4 linked regions of the Homo sapiens genome follow. The protein of the gene in region 1 purifies or fractionates together with the protein of each later gene. This does not show direct contact. Each region holds a gene or a part of one and is shown in the gene's direction. Other genes may lie near its edges. The genes, in order: NUDT13, MRRF, PDCD6 and MCCC1.

What was found.
Region 2: the proteins of NUDT13 (region 1) and MRRF purify together in Homo sapiens (affinity purification with mass spectrometry; one large-scale study listed by BioGRID and IntAct). This does not show direct contact.
Region 3: the proteins of NUDT13 (region 1) and PDCD6 fractionate together in Homo sapiens (co-fractionation; one large-scale study listed by BioGRID). This does not show direct contact.
Region 4: the proteins of NUDT13 (region 1) and MCCC1 purify together in Homo sapiens (affinity purification with mass spectrometry; one large-scale study listed by BioGRID and IntAct). This does not show direct contact.

What each region holds. Positions count from the first base shown.
Region 1 is NC_000010.11:73,123,937-73,127,505, forward strand, and holds part of NUDT13 (NAD(P)H pyrophosphatase NUDT13, mitochondrial), read left to right. Parts: intron 1-277; coding exon 278-384; intron 385-1,181; coding exon 1,182-1,307; intron 1,308-1,461; coding exon 1,462-1,573; intron 1,574-2,143; exon of another isoform or gene 2,144-2,271; intron 2,272-2,698; coding exon of another isoform or gene 2,699-2,716; exon of another isoform or gene 2,717-2,736; coding exon 2,737-2,891; intron 2,892-3,569. UniProt on the Homo sapiens protein: NAD(P)H pyrophosphatase that hydrolyzes NADH into NMNH and AMP, and NADPH into NMNH and 2',5'-ADP. Has a marked preference for the reduced pyridine nucleotides.
Region 2 is NC_000009.12:122,278,332-122,281,900, forward strand, and holds part of MRRF (ribosome-recycling factor, mitochondrial isoform 1 precursor), read left to right. Parts: intron 1-2,111; coding exon 2,112-2,267; intron 2,268-3,569. UniProt on the Homo sapiens protein: Responsible for the disassembly of ribosomes from messenger RNA at the termination of mitochondrial protein biosynthesis. Acts in collaboration with GFM2. Promotes mitochondrial ribosome recycling by dissolution of intersubunit contacts.
Region 3 is NC_000005.10:302,604-306,172, forward strand, and holds part of PDCD6 (programmed cell death protein 6), read left to right. Parts: intron 1-1,573; coding exon 1,574-1,618; intron 1,619-3,569. UniProt on the Homo sapiens protein: Calcium sensor that plays a key role in processes such as endoplasmic reticulum (ER)-Golgi vesicular transport, endosomal biogenesis or membrane repair.
Region 4 is NC_000003.12:183,071,941-183,075,509, reverse strand, and holds part of MCCC1 (methylcrotonoyl-CoA carboxylase subunit alpha, mitochondrial isoform 1 precursor), read left to right. Parts: intron 1-3,022; coding exon 3,023-3,144; intron 3,145-3,569.

The sequences.
Region 1 (3,569 bases):
TTTTTTAAATTTTAGAGATGGGGTCTCACTGGAGTGCAGTGGCTATTCACAGGTAAGATCATAGCGCACTGTATGTAGCCTGGAACTCCTAATGGCCTCAAGCCATCCTCCTGCCTCAGTCTCCTGAGTAGCTGGGACTACAGGCACACGCCCCCCACACCTAGCTGAATCTTACGAGGCAAGTTTGGGAAACACTATTTTAACAGGATAGACTGGAGAGAGGCCCTGAGGCAAAGTTTGTCATTGTTTAATTTCATTATCTTTTCTAATTTTCTAGCCTCCTTACACAAACCTGAAATGGAGACAGAGCTCAAGGGGTCTTTCATTGAGCTGAGAAAGGCACTCTTTCAACTCAATGCAAGGGATGCCTCCTTGCTGTCCACGGTAGATTCTGATTTCTCATTCTGTAGGAAATTTAGTAGAGCAGTAAGTGTGGGCAAATCCATGTGTACACACAAGGCTAGAGTGACGTTTGATTTCTTCTTTTGCAGATTATAGTCCTTTCTACAAACACTGGCAGGACAATGTGCTGTAGGGAGATTGCTTATTCTTCCTTCTTCTGCCCTTGTTTTTGGCAGAACCACTGTCAAGATCATTGTCTCCTAAAGACATGCAGATCTATGGCAATAGGATCTGTCAGCCTCATAAACATTTTTAATGACCCACATAGCATGACATATACAGTATCATGTTTTCCCTAAGAGAAATTACTTTACATTGCTTTAATGACTTGCCCTCACAGCTTTAGATTTCACTTGCTAAAGTATTTTGATTGTGCATTTAATTTAAAAAGAAACCTCTAAACATTTTTTTAGTTGCAAAAAATTCCAACTTTACCAGGGAGAAGAACATTTTGGGGTGTTCAACTGTACTGGGAATGTTTTATTTTTAAGCTGGTTAGTGAATACATGGGTGTTCATTTTATTACCTCATATACTTCATATGTTTTAAATAATAATACATTTAAAAATATGCTTTCTTTTATTCAGATTTCTGATGCTAGAGGAATATGTTCAGTTAGTTTACTTGTCCTGAAATTTAAACAGTAACCATTTAAATTACGTGAGCTGTAAAGAGATTGGCATTTTTCTGTGAGTTGTTCCAGACACTAGGCCCAGTGCTGTTAAAGATGAGCCCCGCATTCTCTCCAAATGACACCAGGCCCATCATTGTGTTCCTAGGCTCAAGCTCTTCTCCGCTGGCATGATGCTCATCAGTTCTGCAGCAGAAGTGGGCAGCCCACCAAGAAGAACGTGGCTGGCAGCAAGCGTGTGTGCCCTTCCAATAATATAATCTATTATCCACAGGTAATTATTGCTGTAAGAGGACAGTAATCCAAGAAGACTGTGCGCTGCTTTGTCCTGGGGAAGGAAGCCTGTGCAATTCCTTAATTATACACTGCTTTAGCTCATTGGCAGGGCCCAAAGTGCCAGCATCTCAGTTTCCATTCCCCTTTCCTAGATGGCTCCTGTGGCGATCACGCTGGTGTCAGATGGGACCCGATGCCTGCTTGCCCGCCAAAGCTCCTTTCCCAAGGGAATGTATTCTGCCTTGGCAGGTTTTTGTGATATAGGTGAGGAGTTTAGGGGATATACAGGTGACACTGGAAGATATACAATCTTACTAATACAATCTTCTCTGTCTTGTTGCTATAGAGCTTGAATTCCCAAGCACATTCTTTTCTATCATGTCAAGAAAACTGCTTTCTGGCATTTTATATATATATATATATATATATATAAAATTTTTTCCTTTCCTTTTTTTTGAGATGGGAGTCTCACCCTGTTGCTCAGGCTGGAGTGCAGTGGTGCAATCATGGCTCATTACAGCCTCAACCTTCTGGGTTCAAGCAATCCTCCCACCTCAGCCTCCTGAATAGCTAGGACTACAGGCACAGGCTACCATGCCCGGCTAATTTTTAAAATTTTTTGTAGAGACAGGGTCTCGCCGTGTTGCCTAGGCCAGTCCTGAACTCCTGGCTTCAAGTGACCTACCTGCCTTGACCTCCCAAAGTGTTGGGATTACAGGTGTGAGCCACACTATTTTTTTAAGCAAATTTTCAAACATAGGAGATTGTTGAAAGAATTATACAGTGAACACCCATACACCCACTACCCAGATTCTATAATTTTTTTTCCTCTTCACATGTAGGCATTTGTTTGTAGGGAGGCCACAAGCTTTGTGCCTCTCATCACATTGACCCCAGATTCCTGTTGGGTGTGTTATAAACAGAGGAGCCATTCTTTAGGCCCCCTGCTCTGAGCACACCCCTAGATTCCATGAATTTTTACTACACTTACTTTATCACAAAGCTGTCCATCTATCCATTAATCTATCTTATTTTTTGATGCATAGATTGAAGATATTAGTACACTTCTTCCTATTTCAGCATGCGTAACATTTGCTAGAATTCAGTATTTATTTACAGGTTGGTTTTTTTCTCTAGTCTATTGGGGTCAAATTTGCAAATGGTGAAAAGTGGAATTTTATGAAAGCTGAGTGCAGTAGTCCCTCCTACTGTCACACTTACTTTAGACCTAGCAGACTTAAGCACTGTGGTTCAACACACAGCTCTGGACCTGATTCTTATTGTTGGAATGACTCAGAGTTTTAGGACACTCCCAAGAGCATTTCATTGAAACTTTGGAGCCAGTGTTGTGCACCTTTCTCAAATGGGCTGTCTGTATCACCCTTCTAGCCTACAGGGCTGTCCTGAATTAATCTGAGTGCTTGTAGGTGAAAGTGTGGAAGAGACCATCCGCCGAGAAGTTGCAGAAGAGGTGGGATTGGAGGTGGAAAGCCTGCAGTACTATGCATCCCAGCATTGGCCCTTCCCTAGTGGCTCACTCATGATTGCTTGCCATGCAACTGTGAAACCAGGGCAGACAGAAGTAAGTTCTCATCTTCCCTTATACTGTGATATTTCTTTTGCTTCATCCAACCTGCTCATCAGCAAGTACTTATTAAGCACTTGTCTAGTCCAGCATCATCTAGATTACATAAACATGTGTAAAATATGATTTAGGGCTGAGCACGGTGGCTCATGCCTGTAATCCCAACACTTTGGGAGGCTGATGTGGGCGGATCACTTGAGGTCAGGAGTTCAAGACCAGCCTGGCCAACATGGCAAAACTCCATCTCTACTAAAAATACAAAAATTAAGGCCGGGTGCGATGGCTCATGCCTGTAATCCCAGCACTTTGGGAGGCTGAGGTGGGCGGATCACGAGGTCAGGAGTTCAAGACCAGCCTGGCCAAGATAGTGAAACCTCATTTCAACTAAAAATACAAAAATTGGCTCGGCATGGTGGCAGGTGCCTGTAGTCCCAGCTATTTGGGAGGCTGAGGCAGGAGAATCGCTTGAACCTGGGAGGTGGAGGTTGCAGTGAGCTGAGGTCGCGCTACTGCACTCCAGCCTGGGCAACAGGGTGAGAATGCATCTTGAAAGTAAATTAATTAATTAATTTAATTAAATATGATTTATGCCCTCAAGGAATTTGCAACCTAGTAAAGGAAGCAAATAATCTCCATTCTCCCTTGCATATATGTCAATCACGAGACAATTTATTT
Region 2 (3,569 bases), on another chromosome or scaffold:
GCATGTCAAAAGTCCCCTTTGTGCTTCTTTCTAGTAAGTACTACCCTTGACCCTTTGCAGATAACTATTATTCTGACTTCTAGTAGCATGGATTCGTTTTCTCTTTTTTTTTACTTTTCAGTTTATATTCTCATATCTGGCCTTTGTACTGTACAGTTTTGTTTTCTTGTGTCTGGCCTCTGTGTTCAACATCATGTTTGTGAGACTCATTTAAATTTTTGTGTGTGTTCATTCTTTCTCATGGTTGCATAGTATTTCATTCATAAATATTACTATTCATTCCAATATTGACAGGCATATCTTTAAATTATTAATGTGCATATTTGGTTTTAAAAGTTCAAAGTTGAAGATATTATTTCAGTTGCTTCTGGCTTCTGTTGTTGCTCTTGGAAAGTGTTCTAAGTTTTAATCCTTCATGGATAATTTGTCTTTTCTCTTGGGCGTTTATAAAGATCTCTTTGTCCTTTGTTTTCTGCAGTCACAACATGTCTAGGTGTGAATTTACTTTTATTGTCCTATTTGAAACTTGTGTTTCTCAATCCGAAGATCCACATCTTTTTTTTTTTTCTTTGATCTGTCGCCCAGGCTGAAGTGCAGTGGCACTGATCTCGGCTCACTGCAACCTCCACCTCCCGGGTTCAAGCGATTCTCCTGCCCCAGCCTCCCGAGTAGCCGGGATTACAGGCACACGCCACCACGCCCAGCTAATTTTTGTAATTTTAGTAGAGATGGAGTTTCACCATTTTGGTCAGGCTGATCTTGAACTCCTGACCTCGTGATCTGCCTGCCTCGGCCCCACAAAGTGCTGGGATTATAGGCATGAGCCACTGCGCCCAGCCCCACATCTTCTATCAGTTCTGAAAAAAAACCTAAGCCATTGGTTTCAAAGCATAATGGTAACATGGGCAAATAAATGTTTTTAAAAATCACTCTGTTGCTTACCAGTTGTTTACTTTGGACGAAACATTTAAATGGCTTGTGCCTTAGATTTCTCATCTGTACCATGGGGACAATACTAATCACTATTCTTCCTACCTCAGAGAGCTATCTTGGATAGCAAGGAGGAGAATGTACTTGAAATTGCATTGCAAGTTATAATATGCCACCCAAATAGTACAGGATTGAGTTCACTGTAGATGTTCAACAAAATTTATTTAATGAATCTCAATAAATATTTGTTGAATGTTTAATGAATAAACAGTGTAAATATTGTTTAAAATTTTATTGTTTTTCTCCTTCCCCATTCCCTATAAAAGAAATGCAAGAATATTTGCATCACTCACAGAAATTATCTATGTATACACCTAGAATGTATATGAAAAATCACTACGATGATTTAGACATAAAATGAAATTATATTCAGCTCCCAATGCTGTTGATTTTCTAAAATATAAGCCATTGTCTCTACCATTGGTAGTGTTTAATGTCTGTAAACTACTATTGTTCCTTTTGTCTGTACTCTACCAGCCATCAGATATTGTGTGCATATCCTTGTCTTAGTGTCCATTTTTAATGAATTAATGTATTTCCTGTCTCTCTAATTAGATTTTGTGGAGATGGGCTAGTGAAAAGTTCATGGGTTTAAAATTAGGCAGATCTGGAACCAGATCTTGACTTTTCCATTTCCTGACCTGTGACATTAGGCAAATAGCTTTACCTTTCTCATCTTCTGTTTACTTTTCTGAAAAGTAAGGGATTAATTTAGTTATGGATTCCCTGCCATGTGTATAGTGTTCTTTTAGGTGTTTGAATGACTTAATTTGTATCCTTGTAGCAACCTTGCAATATAGATGTTACTATTCTTTTACAGGTAGGGAACTTGATACTCAGAAAGATAACTTGCCTAAGGTCATAAAGCTAGTATGCATTATAGCCAGACTTCTAACCTGGGGTGTCTGATTATAAAGTGTGCCCCCTCACTAGTATCTGAGAAGGTGTTTAGCACAGTTGACACTCAGTTAATATAGGCTCTTTTTTAGTGGAGCGATAATGTTTTATAATTTTCTAACACTTGACATTTTTCCCTGTACATAGTAGGTACTTCTTCACCAATTGCTTATTGGCTCTGTTTATGCTGCTGTTGTTTTATTCACTGAATGTTCACTTTTTAGCCAAAGGGAAAGGACAGTCCCAAACCAGAGTGAATATTAATGCTGCCTTGGTTGAGGATATAATCAACTTGGAAGAGGTGAATGAAGAAATGAAGTCTGTGATAGAAGCTCTCAAGGATAATTTCAATAAGACTCTCAATATAAGGACCTCACCAGGTTAGTGACTGAACCAATGTTCTGGGGAGGGATGTAATGGAAAGAGCATGGGTTTGGCAGAGTTGAGTTTTAGTCCCAGCTTTGCCATTTACTAACTGGTGGCCATGGGCAGTTACTTTGCTTTTCTGGTCCTCGGTTTTCTTGTTTGATTCTTAACTTACAGCTTTGGGGTGGTAGTTAAAATAAATGAGGTAACGTATTATGGTTCTAGCATAGTGCCTGGCGCATAGTTAACACTACATTTATTTATCCATGCTGCAAATTTTTGTCTACTTTGGAACTAGGCATTGTGCTAGTGCATAGTAGTAAACAAAAATAGGTATTGTCTTTGCTATCATGGAATTAGACTCTCAGAAAAATGAGATTTTTATTATGAATGTACTATAAACACATCTAGGTATTTAGTCTCATAGTAACTGACATCTTTGGTCCGATTTTTCCAATTTGTCCTGTTTGGCAGTTCTTATCCCTTACTGGGAACCAAATGAATACAGACCTGCCCACGTGAGGCATTTCTATACCCCTGAGCTTGACCAGGAAGATTCCGTTTGGGTTAATAACTTCCTGAAAGTGGCTTTTCTAAGTGGGAAATGTCAGAACTGTCTAGGCCAACTGTTTGCAGATGTGATGGAGAAGTGAGTTGTCAGCTGATGGTGCAAGCAGGCAGGAAAAATCCAGTTGCTGTTAAATTAGGCTTTTGCAAATTGTCATCATCCTAAAGTCAAACCTGGGACCCCTCTCTTAAGGTACCTGTGGGAGCTTGGGCTGCTTCTACTCACATCTTGATTAGGATAGTTCATAAGAAAACTAGAAATATTTCGCTCTTAAGAAAACCAAGTGAAAAATACAGCTCCACTTATAAACACTATCAGAAACATTACCGAGTTCAGAGATGAGATCCAGTGTGAAACTAGAAGACTGTTCCCGTCACTTGTCAACCTTTGGGCTGGGGCATTTCTGCCTTTGCTGACAGTAGAGCGTGCCATTCAATCTCTCTCAACTGTTTATTTTAAACTTGCTTATTATTTTAGGTATGAAACTGATAAAGTGCTCTGTCTCCCCTGTGTTTTCTGGCCTGTTAACATTCTGCAGCCGAAACCAGAGAGCAGTTTGAGAGGAGCTCAGGGAGAAATGTGATACTTAAAATTAGCCAGCAAGCTCCACTCTTGTTGAACTTAAAAAGATGATGGGCCTGGAAAGAGGTTGGGAGTGTAATTTGTTAAATGTTAACCTCTGAGAAAATGAGGGGCAGGAATGAGGCTGAGGGAGATTCTCGCTGGGGACAGATTGAGGGAAAAGGAT
Region 3 (3,569 bases), on another chromosome or scaffold:
GTGTGTATGCCATGGGTTCAGGTGCACCTGCCTTTGTGGGAAGAGCACAGCTTCCCCGCATAACTGCTGGAGGGTGGGTCATCGAGTGCTGCTGTGTGTGTGGGCCACGGGTTCAGGTGCACCTGCCTTTGTGGGGAGAGCACAGCTTCCCTGCATAACTGCTGGAGGGTGGGTCATCGAGTGCTGTGTGTGTGGGCCACAGGTTCAGGTGCACCTGCCTTTGTGGGGAGAGCACAGCTTCCCTGCATAACTGCTGGAGGGCGGATCATTGAGTGCTGCTCTGTGTGTATGCCTCAGGTTCAGGTGCACCTGCCTTTGTGGGAAGAGCACAGCTTCCCTGCATAACTGCTGGAGGGCGGGATCTTCCCAAGGGGAAGTTGGGAGGTGCTCAGGCGGAGCAAATGGATTTAACTTCTGGGCTGGGAGAATGTGGTACCCCCGTGGAAGTCTCCCTGAGGAAGGAAAGGAAGGAGCTGGAGGGAGGGTGTGTGTGTCTTAGGAGGGGACGCACTTCAGGTGAGAGCGGGCATGGCACTAGGAGGAGCCCCATGAGCCCAGAGTGGTGGCACGTAGAGGCCTAAGGGACCATGCCAGCAGACCCCACCGCCCGTGCTCCACCAGGAGCCTGACATTGTTCTCTGAGATCAGGGGGCTGTCTCTGTGTACTGCCCAGGACTGTGGCATTTTTGTGCATAAAAAAAAAAAAAAACTGTGTGTCTAACACAGACGGGGTATGAGGAGAGCCACTGGTCTCTCCTGACCTTAAAAATATTTTTTTAGTTCATTTTTAGTGAGTATGGAAATTACTGAAGGTACAAATCACTCTGAAGATAGGTTCTTGTGTGCGAAGGTCATCAGTGAATCTTCATTCTCAGAGTTGATAAATGGTTGTGAGCGCTCAAGGGTATCAGATTCAACGATGAGTCTGAGGATAGTACAGCTTTCCTATTCAGTTTCAAGGAAAATCATATAAAGCCCAGACCGTAATTTGTCAGGAATGTTTGAAGTGTGGTGTGATGGATGTCTTCACCGTGCTTTAGGATGATTACTGAGGGAGAACGGAAGGAAGGGGTCTGGTACTTGCACCTTTCAGTAGAATTAGTGTGAATGCCACAGCGACCAAGCTATGTTCAGGTGTCTGCAGGCAGTGGTGGCCTTGATGATGGATTTTCTGAAATGGGAATTCGTGAAGTCCTCTAACAAAACTAAGTGCGAACTTCTCAACTTAGCTGGTGACTGCATCCTTGAAAAATTCTGTGTGTAAAATGATACAGAACCATTTCTTGGTTATCTGTTAAATAAGAGTGCATGTCCAGCCGCGATGACTGTGGACGGCCTTGGAGGTCTGGGAGGCCACGAAGGACTCCCACACACAGCAGGGTGTGAACCCACCAGGCAGTGCTTTGGCCCCCTCCCAGGAGTCATGGCAGCCGACACGTCACCTGGAGTGTCTAGAAAACCACTACCTTAGAGCCCCCACTGCTTTTCCTGGTGCCTCCAGGTATAGATCACAAACTCAGTGTCCCAGAAAGATTTTCCTTTTACTTTAACTCCTGTTGTTGTTTGTTTTCAGGCACGTGGACTCCCTTTAATCCAGTGACTGTCAGGTCGATCATATGTAAGTATCGGCAGACGGACCAACCTGGGCTGCTTTGTATCCGACCCGCTTGGGTACCCGCTTGTGTTTCCTTTGTCTGTGGGTCCGTATCACTTTGCTCCCTTCTGGAATTCCACTTAGATGAGCGTCGGCCCTTTCATCCCTCTCCCTCCGTCTCTGTACCTTTTCACATCTCTCCGTGTATGTTTGCTCTATTCTTGATTCTGTTTATTTTTAATGTACGGTGTAACCTGTCCTTTCAGTTTCTAATTCTAAAGATGACATATATTTAAAATTTCTAAATTATTAGTTACTTTCACATCTTATCTGGGTGTTTTTGATAGACATTGCTTATTTATTTTTGTGATTCCATTCTTTATTCAAATATTTCATATGATAGTCTTCAGTTTTAAGAACATGCTTTTTTGAAAAGCGCTAGATATTTGTGACATGGAGCTCCTTGACTGTGTTTGAAGTCCTTGGGAGGGTGGTCTACAGCCAGATATTTTTCCTGCTCAAGCCCACACAGAGTGACCAACTTCCTTGATGCTTCTGTAATTTTTGTTTGTTTTGTGGGTTCATGTGTAGCCTTAATGTGAGGGTCTGCATCATTTCTTTGGGTCCAGGGTCTCCCCAGCTGTATAGGCAGCTGGGTTTTTGTTTGTTTCTTTTAAGAGACAGGGTGTCCCTGTGCTGCCCAGGCCTGGTCTGGAATTCCTGGGCTCACGCAATCCTCCTGCCTCAGCCTCCCAAAAAGTGGGGATTACAGGTGTGCACCCCCATGCCCAGACGGTAGCCGGGGTGTGAGCTGAGGCTCCAGGCGCAGGCAGGTGTTCAGGAGAGTCGTGCTGTGTCTCCATCCCCCGTAGCCAGGTGGGAGCTGCAGCTCCAGGGGCAGGCAGGCCTGGGAGGCAGGTGTTCAGGAGAGTCATGTTTCCATCCCTACCCGACTTGATTTCTGGAAGGTTCCCTTTGCTGGGAGGTGCAGCCCCCTTCAGACCTCTTTAATATGGAATCCCAGGTTCAGTTCTGCCTCACAGGGACCATGGCATTGTGTCTCGAGGTTTCCCAGAGCGGCCTGGGGCTCATTCCCTCGCCTCCCATCCATGCACGTGTTTTAGTCTTGTGAGGATTCCCTGAGTTCCTTGCGGAGCCTGTGTGTGGTGAGGTGTCTGAGTCCTAGTGTGGGTGTAGCTGGGGGCTTTTCCAGATGACTGTGCCCTGCTGGTCGTGCATATGTTGCTACGTCACACTGATGGAGGGAGAGAAAACTTGGAAGTGTAGTAGTGGCAGGGCTCAGCCTTTAGTGCTAGAAAAGGTGTTGATACATGGGGAGCTACCTCCCCACCGGAGAGGAATGGCCTGGGAGCCACTCCTCTGCGGAGCCCTTACCCTGGGGTGCAGCTCACCCAGCATCCTTCCCTGCTGGTGTGTGGTGCGCAGTGGGTCCTGCACGCAACAGCATCGTCCACACACACTGCACACATCGTGGAATGGTCGTATGAAAAACAGCCCCTGGTCCACACACCACACACGTCGTGGAACGGTGCACGTCGTGGAACGGTTGTGTGAAAAACAGCCACTGGTTGCACACAGGGTTGTGGACTGTTGGGAAGAAACATCGATGCTGTTTCTCACATGATTTTTCATCCTGTGGATTTTCATTTAATTGTAACATATTTCTGATCAAACCAGGAGTAGTCTTATTGCAGTCCTGTATTAACCTCTGTTCTTGAAAAGAGACCACGTGATTTATCATTTTCTCTGCAGCAGTAATTCACACTGAATTTTTCTATGTTTTTTAGCCATATTGCAACTACATATAAAGGTAGTTATAGATTCTTTTGTATTTGGACCTGGAGTTAGACTGAAAGCAAATAGGACATAGGCGAGGGTCTGTTTCTAATTAAAGCAGGTTTTCCTGACAGGGCTGTTCCAAGACTCCACCAGTGCTGTGGGCCCTGGAGAGTCA
Region 4 (3,569 bases), on another chromosome or scaffold:
AGACATACATGTGACCAACAAACATGAAAAAAAGCTCAATATCACTGATCATTAGAGAAACGCAAATCAAAACCACAATGAGACACCATCTCACACCAGTCAGAATGGCTATTACTAAGAAGTCAAAAAAATAACAGATGTCAGGAGGTTGTGGAGAAAAGGGAACGCTTATACACTGTTGGTAGGAGTGTAAATTAGTTCAACCATTGTGGAAAGCAGCAGGGTGATTCCTCAAAGAGCTAAAAGCAAAACTGCCATTCAACCCAGCAATCCCATTACTGGTTGATACCCAGAGGAATATAAATTATTCTACCATAAAGACACATGTGCATGTATGTTCATTGCATCATTCACAATAGCAAAGTCATTGAATCAGCCTAAATGCCCATCAGTGACAGATTGGATGAAGAAAAGGTGGTACATATACACCACGGAATACTATGCAGCCATAATAAAGCATAAGATCACATCTTTTGCGGGAACATGGATGGAGCTGGAAGCTATTATCCTTAGCAAACTCCCACAGGAACAGAAAACCAAATACTGCATGTTCTCACTTAGAAGTGGGAGCTGAATGATAAGAACTTAAGAACACAAAGAAGGAAACAAAAGACACTGGGGTCTACCTGAGTGGGGAAGGTGGGAGGGAGAGGAGCAGAAAAGATAACTATTGAATACTGGGCTTAATACCTGGGTGACGAACTCTGTACAACAAACCCCTGTGACATGTATTCACCTGTGTAATCTTCACATGCACCCCAAACCTAAAATAAAAGTTAATAAAATAAAATTGAACTTTGGTTTAAAAGATATAAAACTCTAAACTGGCTGCAACATATGAGTATCCAGCATTTTATCTGTATCTGGCATTGCATTGTTTCCTGTCACTAGGATGTGGGTTTTTCTATTCGTATGAGTTTCCCAGATATGTGAAGCTTACCCCTTTAATTTTGAAATGTTCTTTGAGTGTAACTATTTTGAAACAGGATTGGCTGAACCTTTGTGTTTTTACATTGTTTTGGTCATAATTATAATACTCGCTCACATTTTAGAAGAACAAATCCCCTCAGGGCTACTGATGTTGGAGAGGGTGTGGCTTCATCACTCATTAAATCATCCAAGTCTTCTCTGCCTTTTGCCTCCTTCTGTTTCTTCCCTTTTTGCTGTCAGCGTGTTTACTTTTAGAAATCTTGCTGTCCTTCAGTTACTGAATTTCCTCTTCTGTGGGCTAAAATCCCAGTAAGTATGTTTGTTAAAATTCTGAGTACACTGGAAGTAACTAGGCTGAAGTCTGAGGGATGCCCTTTTCACTGAAAGTACACGTACAGTTGTCCCCTTTATCCACGGTTTTGCTTTGAGTGGTTTCAGTTACCTGCAGTCTACTATGGTGTGAAAATATTAAATGGAAAATTCCAGAAATCAACAATTGATAAGTTTCAAATTGCACGCCATTCTGAGTCACACAGTGAGATCTTGCACAGTCTGCTTTGTCCCTCCCAGGATGTGAATCGTCCCTTTGTCCAGTGTCTCCACGCTGTCTCCACTCCCCATCTGTTAGTCACTCAGGAGCCATCTAGGTTATCAAATTGACTGTCATGGTACCACCATGCTTGTGTTCAAGTCACCCTTATTTTATTTAAATCATGGCCCCAAAATGCAAGAGCAATGATGGTGGCAATTCACTTATGCTAAAGAGAAGCCATGAAATGCTTCTTTTAAGTGAAAAGGTGAAAATTCTCAAGGAAAGAAAAAAATATGTATGTTGAGGTTTCTTGGTTCTTGGTAAGGACCAAGTTTCTATCTGTGAAATTGTGAAGAAGGAAAAACAAATTCATGTCATTTTCCTGTTGCACCTCAAACTGCAAAACTTATGGCCACAGGGCATGGCAAGTACTTAGTTAAGATGGGAAAGGCATTACATTTGTGATTGGAAGACATGAACAGAAGCGTGGTCAAATTGGTATCAGTCCAGTTCTGTAGTATTCATAGTTTCAGGCATCCACTAGGGATCTTGGATAAGGGGACACTCCTGTAGACTTTAATACATGACTTTCATTTGCTTCTTAGCTTTTTTTCTGGAAAGATGACATTGATGACCTGAAGATAAGTGAGGTATTTATTGAGCTAGTGTTCTGTTTGGGGCTTTTGGATGCCATGATTTCAATTCTAGGCCAGTTTTACACAGAGACAGAATAGACAAATTCCCCTTACCACTCTGAAGCCCTTTACTTCTTGACATTCTACCCTAATTGCAATATTATTTTAAATTTAAGTATATAGAAACTTCTGTACCATATGATCCAGCAATTCCACTTTTGGTATACAGCTAGAAGAATTTAAAGCAGGGACTCAAAACAGATACTTGTATACCAATACTTGTTGTTCACAGCAGCAGTATTCACAATGTGTAGAAATAACACAATGTCCATCAAGAGATTAATGGATAAACAAAATGTGTACAAACTGGATATTATTCAACCTTAAAAACAAATGGAATTTTGATACATGTTACATGAATGAACCTTGAAAACATTATGCTAGGTGAAATAAGCCAAACTCAGACAAATTATTATACGCTTCCACTTACATGAGGTACTTTGGCTAGAGAAATTCATAAACAGAAAGTAAAATCCTGGTTACTAGGGACTAAGGAAAGGGAGGGAATGGAGAATTATGTTTGGAGATTAAAACATCCTGAGGATGGATGGTGATGACAGTTGCCCAACATTGTGAGTGTACTTAATGCCACTGAATTACATACTTGCAAGTAACTAAAATGGTCAGTGTTTTGCTATGTATATATTATCACAATAAAAAGAAATATAGATTCATCTGGTTTAGGTAAGCCTTCAGAGCTTTCATATGAATATTTCAGATATTTCTTTGGAAACAGAGTTTAATAGAGACCATACTATTACCAGTGTAGGGAGAGGCCTCCCAGAGGAAGACAGCTTCACCTGCATTAAGGTGTTGCCAGTTGAGCACTGATGAGTAAATTTTTTATTTTATTTCTCATTTCTAGGCTATCCATCCAGGATGCGGTTTTCTCTCAGAAAACATGGAATTTGCTGAACTTTGTAAGCAAGAAGGAATTATTTTTATAGGCCCTCCTCCATCTGCAATTAGAGACATGGGTATAAAGAGGTATGAGTTTATATCTTTTAAAATATAACTGTATGAAGGTCAGTTGAAATAGTTTGGGCCAGGCATGTGGCTATGCCTGTAATACCAGTGTTTTGGGAGACTGAGGCAGGAGGATAGCTTGAGGCCAGGAATTCAAGACCAGCCTGGGCAACTTAGTGAGACCTTGTCTCTCAAAATTCTTTTTTTTAAATCAGCCAGGCCTGGGCACAGTGGCTCACACCTGTAATCCCAGCACTTTGGGAGGCCAAGGTGGGAGGATCACTTGAGCCCAGAAGTTTAAGACCAGCCTGGGCAACACAGGGAGACCCTGTCTCTACAAAATTTTTTAAAAATTCCAGGCATGGTGGCACGTGCCTGTGGGTCCAGCATCTTGGGAGGCTGAGGTGGGAGGATTGCTTGAGCCCAGGAGATCAAGGCTGCAGTGA